2 linked regions of the Homo sapiens genome follow. The protein of the gene in region 1 purifies or fractionates together with the protein of each later gene. This does not show direct contact. Each region holds a gene or a part of one and is shown on either strand. Other genes may lie near its edges.

Region 1 (3,500 bases):
TCAAGATGGGAATTGCAAGAGAGAAATAATTTCATATACATGGAGACAGCTAAATGGGAGACAGGAGTTTTATTATTACTCAAATCAGCCTTCTTGAAAAGTTGGAGGCTAGGGTTTTTCAAGGATAGTTTGGTAGGCAGGGGCTAGGGAATGGGTACTGCTGATTGGTTGGGGATGGAATCACAGGGATATAGAAAAACAGTCCTGGTCCTTGCGTGCTGAGTCTGCTTCTGGGTTGGGGCCACAGAGGAGTGGCTGGTCTGAGAGGGGCCATTGGGTAGTCAGAAGTGCAAAAGCCTGAAAAGACATCTCAAAAGGCCAGTCCTGTGTACTACAATAGTGATGTTATTTACAGGAGTAATTGAGGATGTTGCAAATTTTTGTGCCCTCTGGAATAATAACTGCTAATCATTTAACTGACCTGCATCTTAGCAGAATTCTGGTCCTTCGCATCCTCCTGACCTGGTGTCCTTTCATTAGTTTTACAAAGGCAGTTTAGTTTTGGGATGAGCTATTATCATTTAAATCATAAACTAAATTTCTCCCAAATTTATTAATATCTTGGCCCATGCCCAGGAATGACCAAGGGCAGATTGGAGGTTAAAAACAAGATGGAGTTGGTTAGGTCAGATCTCTTTCACTGTCATCATTTTGTCACTGTTATAATTTTGCAAAGGTGGTTTTGAAATTGTCAATCTCCAGTTAATCCTCATTTAATTCTTCTATATCATTCTTTTTTTTTTTTTTTTTTTTTTGGTAGATGGAGTCTCGCTCTGTTGCCAGGCTGGAGTGTAGTGGCGTGATCTCAGCTCACTGCAACCTCCGCCTCCTGGGTTTAAGCAATTCTCCTGCCTCAGCCTCCTGAGTAGCTGGGACTACAGGCACATGCCACCATGCCCAGCTAATTTTTGTATTTTTAGTAGAGACGGGGTTGCACAGTGTTGGCCAGGATGGTCGATCTCTTGACTTCATGATCCGCCTGCCTCGGCCACCCAAAGTGCTGGGATTACGGGTGTGAGCCACTGCCCCCAGCCAATTCTATATCATTCTAAGGAAGCCAGCATGCCCAGCCAATTCTGTGTCATTCTAAGGTGACAATAGAAACACAGTGCTTTAAGAAAATAAAATGAAACTTGGTCTAGACTAGCTTTTAGAATGGCTTTTTCAGGGCAGAGATCCAGCCTTTCTGATCACCGATTCTCTGTGGATCAGTTTTTGTTAAACAAATGTTAAGCACAATTAAGGTGAGATACAAGAAATAATTCGAGGCGGTGGCATACAGTTATTTTATGAGGCCACATACATTTTATAGGATCCAGTAGTCTAAAATTTACATGTAGAAATTTACCTTGTATTTTCAGCTGCCTGCTGAAGATGAAGTCTTACTACAGAAATTAAGAGAGGAATCAAGAGCTGTCTTTCTACAAAGAAAAAGCAGAGAACTGTTAGATAATGAAGAATTACAGGTAAGAACAAAGCAAAAAGTTGCTTTAGATGTTAACCATTTCTCATTTGTGCTACTTAAATCATGCAGGATTTCTTGGTGCCTAATGGAGTCCGTACTACAGAGTGGTACTACATAGGCTCTGAAGCAGCAGTTCCCACCAGAAGCAGCCGCTGAGTTTGCATGGGTCATGTACCCCAAACATAGTGTTGTTTGTTATTTTTGTTTAAGGCCCTAGGTGATTCTAATGTGCAGCCAAGGTTGAGAACCACTGCTGTAGGGTCAGACTACAGAGGTTCAAATCCCAGCCCTGCTATATGACTTTAGGCAATGGACTTAACATCTCTGTGCTTCGATTATCATCTCTAAAGTAGGGATAGCTAACTATATCATAGAGATGTGGATTAAAGAGGCAGTGTATATCAAAAGCTTAGTAGGCACTCAATAAATGTTATTTTTATTGTTAGTAATCAAAAGGATAATAGGGCATGAGATTCATCTTAATATTGACTCTGCCAACAAACTCTCATTTTAGTGGAAAGCACACATTTAACTACATATTAAAATCTTGTTGTTTTTAACTTACAACATCTTCACTTCCACAATTCTCTTAAGAACTTATGGTTTTTGCTGGACAAACACCAGACACCACCTATGATTGGAGAGGAAGCGATGATCAATTACGAAAACTTTTTGAAGGTTGGTGAAAAGGCTGGAGCAAAGTGCAAGTAAGAATAATATAATTAACAAAAGAATGTGTTATGTTAAGCATTTTAAATGCCTCAAATATTGGCTGGGCACAGTGGCTCACACCTGTAATCCCAGCAGTTTTGGAGGCTGAGGTGAGAGGATTGCTTGAGCTGGGGTGTTTGAGGCCAGCCTGGGCAACTTAGGGAGATCTTGTCTCTACTAAAAAAATTATCTGGGTGTGGGGGCGTACACCTGTAGCTACTCCGGAGGCTGAGGTGGGAGAATTGCTTGAGCCCGGGAGGATGAGCTGTGATTAAGCCACTGCACTCCAGCCTGGGCGATAGAGCAAGACCTTACCTTTAAAAAAAATAAACAAATCCTCAAATATTAAATGAAGTAAATGGAATGACATTTGAGTCCATTTAAGTTACTAATTAAATTTAATAAAATTATTTACAGTCAAAAAATCACATTGGTATGAAGTTATTAAAATAAATAATATAGCCAGGTGTGGTGGCTCATGCCTGTAATCCCAGCACTTTGGGAGGCTGAGGTGAGCGGATCACGAGGTCAAGAGAACAAGACCATCCTGACCAACATGGTGAAACCCCGTCTCTACTAAAAATACAAAAATTAGCTGGGCGTGGTGGCGTGTGCCTGTAATCCCAGCTACTCAGGAGGCTGAGGCAGGAGAATCGCTTGAACCCTGGAGGCGGAGGTTGCAGTGAGCCGAGATCGTGCCACTGCACTCCAGCTTGGCAAAAGAGCAAGACTCCATCTCAAAAAAAAAAAAGAAATAATATAGTTTATGACACTTTCAGCCTTAAGACAGACGAAAGCAAACAAAAAAGAATGCAAGGCCAGGCACTGTGGCTCACGTGCCCATCTCTGCAAAATAAAAAAAACTTTTAATTAAAAAAAAAAAGAATGCAAACATTTATGACTTAGGCTAGGCATGGTGCCTCACGTTTGTAATTCCAGTGCTTTGGGAGGCCAAGGCAGGTGGATCACTTGAGGCCAGGAGTTCGAGATCAGTCAGGGCAACAGAGCAAATCTCTGTTTATATATATATATTTATCTTTTTTTTTGAGATGGAGTCTTGCTCTGTCGCTAGGCTGCAGGGGAGTGGCGCAATCTCAGCTCACTATAACCTCCGCCTCCTGGGTTCAAGTGATTCTCCTGCCTCAGCCTCCCAAGTATTATTGTATTAACAAAAGAATATGTTAAGCATTTTAAATGCCTCAAATATTGGCTGGGCCAATATAAATACAATATAATACAATATAAATACCCAATACAAATACTTTTTGTATTTTTACTAGAGACGGGGTTTCACCATGTTGGCCAAAATGGTCTCGATCTCTTG
Region 2 (3,965 bases), on another chromosome or scaffold:
GCAGACATCCAAATTAATAAATTCAATTGCTCTTTTCTGTTTCTATCCTCCTCCATCCAATAGTTACTCCTTCACTTGTATTCTTAATTAGATAGTGCCAACTACCTATTTATTTATTTATTTTTTGAGACAGAGTCTCACTCTGTTCAGCCCAGGCTGGAGTGCAGTGGCACGATCTTGGCTCACTGCAACCTCCACCTCCTGGGTTCAAGTGATTCTCCTGCCTCAGCCTCCCCAGTGGCTGGGATTACAGGCACCTGCCACTGTGGCTAATTTTTTTTGTATTTTTAGTAAAGACAGGGTTTCGCCATGTTGGCCAGGCTGGTCTCGAACTCCTGACCTCAGATGATCCACCCACCTCTGCCTGCCAGTGTTGGGATTACAGGCGTGAGCCACTGTGCCTGGTAGTGCCAACTACCCTTTAAAAATATATCACTTTGGGACCGGACCTTGGCATGGCCAGGCCATGGCAAGACCCTGTCTTTACCAAAATTTTAAAAATTAGCTGGGCACAGTGGCAATGTAGTCCCACCTGCTTGGTGCGAGGATCACTTCAGCCTGAGGGTTCAAGGCTGCAGCGAGCAGTGATCGTGCCACTGCACTCTAGCCTGGACAACAGCGCAAGACCCTGTCTCAAAAAACAATTAAAATAGGCTGGGCACAGTGGCTCATGCCTGTAATGCCAGCACTTTGGGAGGCCAAGGTGAATGGACTGCTGGAGGTCAGGAGTTTGAGACCAGCCTGGGCAACATGGTGAAACCCTGTCTCTACAAAAATTACAGAATTAGCTGGGAGTGGTGGCACGTGCCTGTAGTCCCAGCTATTCAGGAGGCTGAGGCAGAGGATTGCTTGAGCTTGGGAGGCAGAGGCTGCACTGAGCTGAGATTGCCCCACTGCTCTCCAGCCTAGGTGACAGAGTGAGACCTTACCTGGAAAAAATAATAATAAAAATAAATATTGCTTTGTAGTTGAGAATGTGGGCTCTGATATCAGACTTGGGTTTGAGTCAAAGCCCTGCCTCTTATTAGCTGTGTACCTCAGGCAAGTTATCCTCTCTAAATTTCAGTTACTTCTATGTCATAGGTTGGTGTACGGATATAAGGCCGAGGGACAGTGTTTGACACATATATAAGCACTCAGTAAATGTGGACTATTATTATTATTGACAATTTTACTCCCTTGGCTCAGAGGTTCTGTCTTCAAGTTTCTTTATCATTTCCTCTAACCATTTCTTTGGGAACATCATTATTCCTCCTGTTTTTATTATTAACTCTGTCATCTAAAACACTACATGGCATACAGTAAGTAACAATTACATGTTGAATAAATAAACGACATCTCTTTCAACCTCTTGATTTGAATTAACAAAAATGTAGTGGACATTTTCACCCATAGTCCCACTGGCACTTGAAACGTTTAACTTAAAAAAGAAATCACTCAAGTTAGGTATTTTTTTAGCATCTCAAAGCTAACATTTCCTAAACCTAACACATCATCTTTTTATCCAAACATGCCCCTTCTGACTTTCCTATTTTAGTTACTAATTCAGCGTTTCCAAGCAACCGGGAGTTGGCAACTTAAATTCATCATTTGATCACTCATTCTTCTGAACCTCCTGTCTAACCATATGAATATCTTGTATATTTTATCTCCACAATGACCATGTTAATTCAGAGTCTCAATACTTCTTACCCACACCATTACAACACCTTAACGGTTCTACCTACTCCTTGCGTCTCCTGGACCATTTTCTTTAATAAAATACATCAGTAGCACCTCATAGCCTAAAGCATTAAATCCAATTTGTTAGCCTAGAATTCATGGCTTTCTACATAAGGGCCAAACCTAACTTTCCTGCCTTATTTCTCTCTACTCTCCTAAATGTACCGTTTCCAGATAACTTTCCTGCCTCCATACCTTTGTTCATGAGCTTCCCTCTAGCTGGAACACAACTCCCTCCACAACCCTCATAATTTCACTTAACAAAATCTAGTCTGTACATGAAAACTCATCTTAAATACCACCTCCTTTTTCTCTTTCCTGAGTCTCCCCATCCAAAATGATTTAGCAAAAATGATCTAAGTGCAAAAGAACTGCCTTTGAAATTATCTACAAGTCAACATATTAGAGTGCTTTATTGCTATCGTTTCTCCCATGCTAGCGTGCGCTCCCTACAGACAGAAATCGCGTCTTACTCTTCATTGCCTCTTCCAAAGGAACAATGCCTTTGTTTATAGGTAAATTAACGGGTTTCAGCTAGGGTCTCTGCACCTATCTCCAATACCCTTGCTTAGATATATTCTTATAGCTTGTCTACTAACAATTAACATTTGTGTAGCACTTTGAATTTTTTTCTTTTAGCCACGTGACAAATCTGTACAATTTATTATCCCAACAACCGTTCAGTATTTTCACTATCCCTTATTTCACAAATGAGGAAACTGAGAGCTAGACCAGCGTGGGGTTAGAGTACACCGGAACGCATCTCCAGGGCGCCCGAATCCCGTACTCCTTTTCCCACTTCATCCCATTCTCGACCGCCTCACTGCTCCAGGTCCCAACGCTCCAGCACTCCTGAGGTCTCTCCCTTTGCACATTGGAGCTTTCCTCCTCCGGTCCCCAGCCCCTCCACGGACACCACATTCAGGCTCACGTCCTCTCCTCCGCACTGCTTCCGCAGTTACTTCTCCCTAACCAGATTTTCTTCCCAAGGCTTCTTACCTAACCCCTTCACCCCAAACCCGAAACTCTATACTCACGACACACTAAGACTCCGAGTCAGGGAACGCAACTGAAAAACAAAAGTCAAACCAAGGAGCGGCGCGGCGCCACTGAGCGTCCCTGAATCCGTGCAATCGCGAAGAAGTTTACATGGCCCTTTGGAATGCGCACCAATGGGAAGGGCCTTCACACAGAGGCCCGCCCCCATCTCGCCCCTCCTCGCGGTGCTCCCGACCGCGCAGAGGTCTCTGGGAAATGTAGTTTTCTTCTGCCTGGAGCTCTGCGCGGGGCGACGCAGCTGGGCTGCAACCCGCTCCTCCAGGGACGGGTAGTGTGACGTTTGGGGTCAGAACGCACCACTTTCGGGCACCCCCACTTAAGATTGCTCAACTGCTTTGAGCTCAGGTACTTCGCGTTCATGGTACATATATGTTGTAATTTCCAAGCTTGTCTCAAGAGATAAAGATTCTAAGAAAAGTTTCTTCTTCCATGACCGGGTGGCCTAGAGCCAGGATAGGACCTGAGGTTCAGTTTCTACGGTCAGGGGACTATGTATTAAAATTCTACTATTTGTTCCATAGCAAACACTGCTTCCTTTTCCGGAGAAATGTAAGACACTGGGCTTTAATGATAAAAGCAAGTTCAAAATCCATTATGGTCTTATCTTTCCAGAAAGCAAGGTGTAAAGGTGGGGGAAAAGCACTTTCGTCTCAGAATTACAGCTACTGGTATGGAAAAGCTGGGGCCCTTCGCTGGTGTGAGTCCTAAGGATGTCTAAATGGAACGTGCATCTGCTACAGGCTCGCACTTTCCTTTATTGCGCTTCCCAGGTAACTGTTTTTACAAATGTAAGGTTTGTGGCAACTCTGCATGGAACCAAATCTATCTGCGCCATTTTTCCTACAGCACAGGCTTACTATGTGTCTCTGCACCACATTTGGTAATTTTCACAATATTTCAAACTTTTTCATAATTATTGTATATGTTATGCTGATCTGTTATCCTTTATATTACTATTATAATTGTTTAGGGGCACCATGAACCATGCCCATATAAGATGGCAAACTTAATTCATAAATGTTGTGGATGTTTTAACTGCTCCACAGACCAGCAGTCTCCCTGCCTTTCTCCCTCTCTTCTTGCCTCCTTATTCCTGTGATACAACAATATTGAAATTAGACCAATTAACAATCCTACAGTGGGGGTTCAAGTGAAAGGAAGAGTCACACATCTCTTACTTTAAA

What was found. The genes of interacting proteins can lie anywhere in the genome.
Region 2: the proteins of PPP2R3C (region 1) and CCDC77 purify together in Homo sapiens (affinity purification with mass spectrometry; one large-scale study listed by BioGRID and IntAct). This does not show direct contact.

The regions. Positions count from the first base shown.
Region 1 is NC_000014.9:35,108,491-35,111,990, reverse strand, and holds part of PPP2R3C (serine/threonine-protein phosphatase 2A regulatory subunit B'' subunit gamma), read left to right. Parts: intron 1-1,348; exon of another isoform or gene 1,349-1,361; coding exon 1,362-1,466; intron 1,467-2,059; coding exon 2,060-2,172; intron 2,173-3,500. UniProt on the Homo sapiens protein: May regulate MCM3AP phosphorylation through phosphatase recruitment. May act as a negative regulator of ABCB1 expression and function through the dephosphorylation of ABCB1 by TFPI2/PPP2R3C complex.
Region 2 is NC_000012.12:400,479-404,443, reverse strand, and holds the start of CCDC77 (coiled-coil domain-containing protein 77), read right to left. Parts: upstream 2,801-3,965; 5' UTR 2,760-2,800; intron 1-2,759.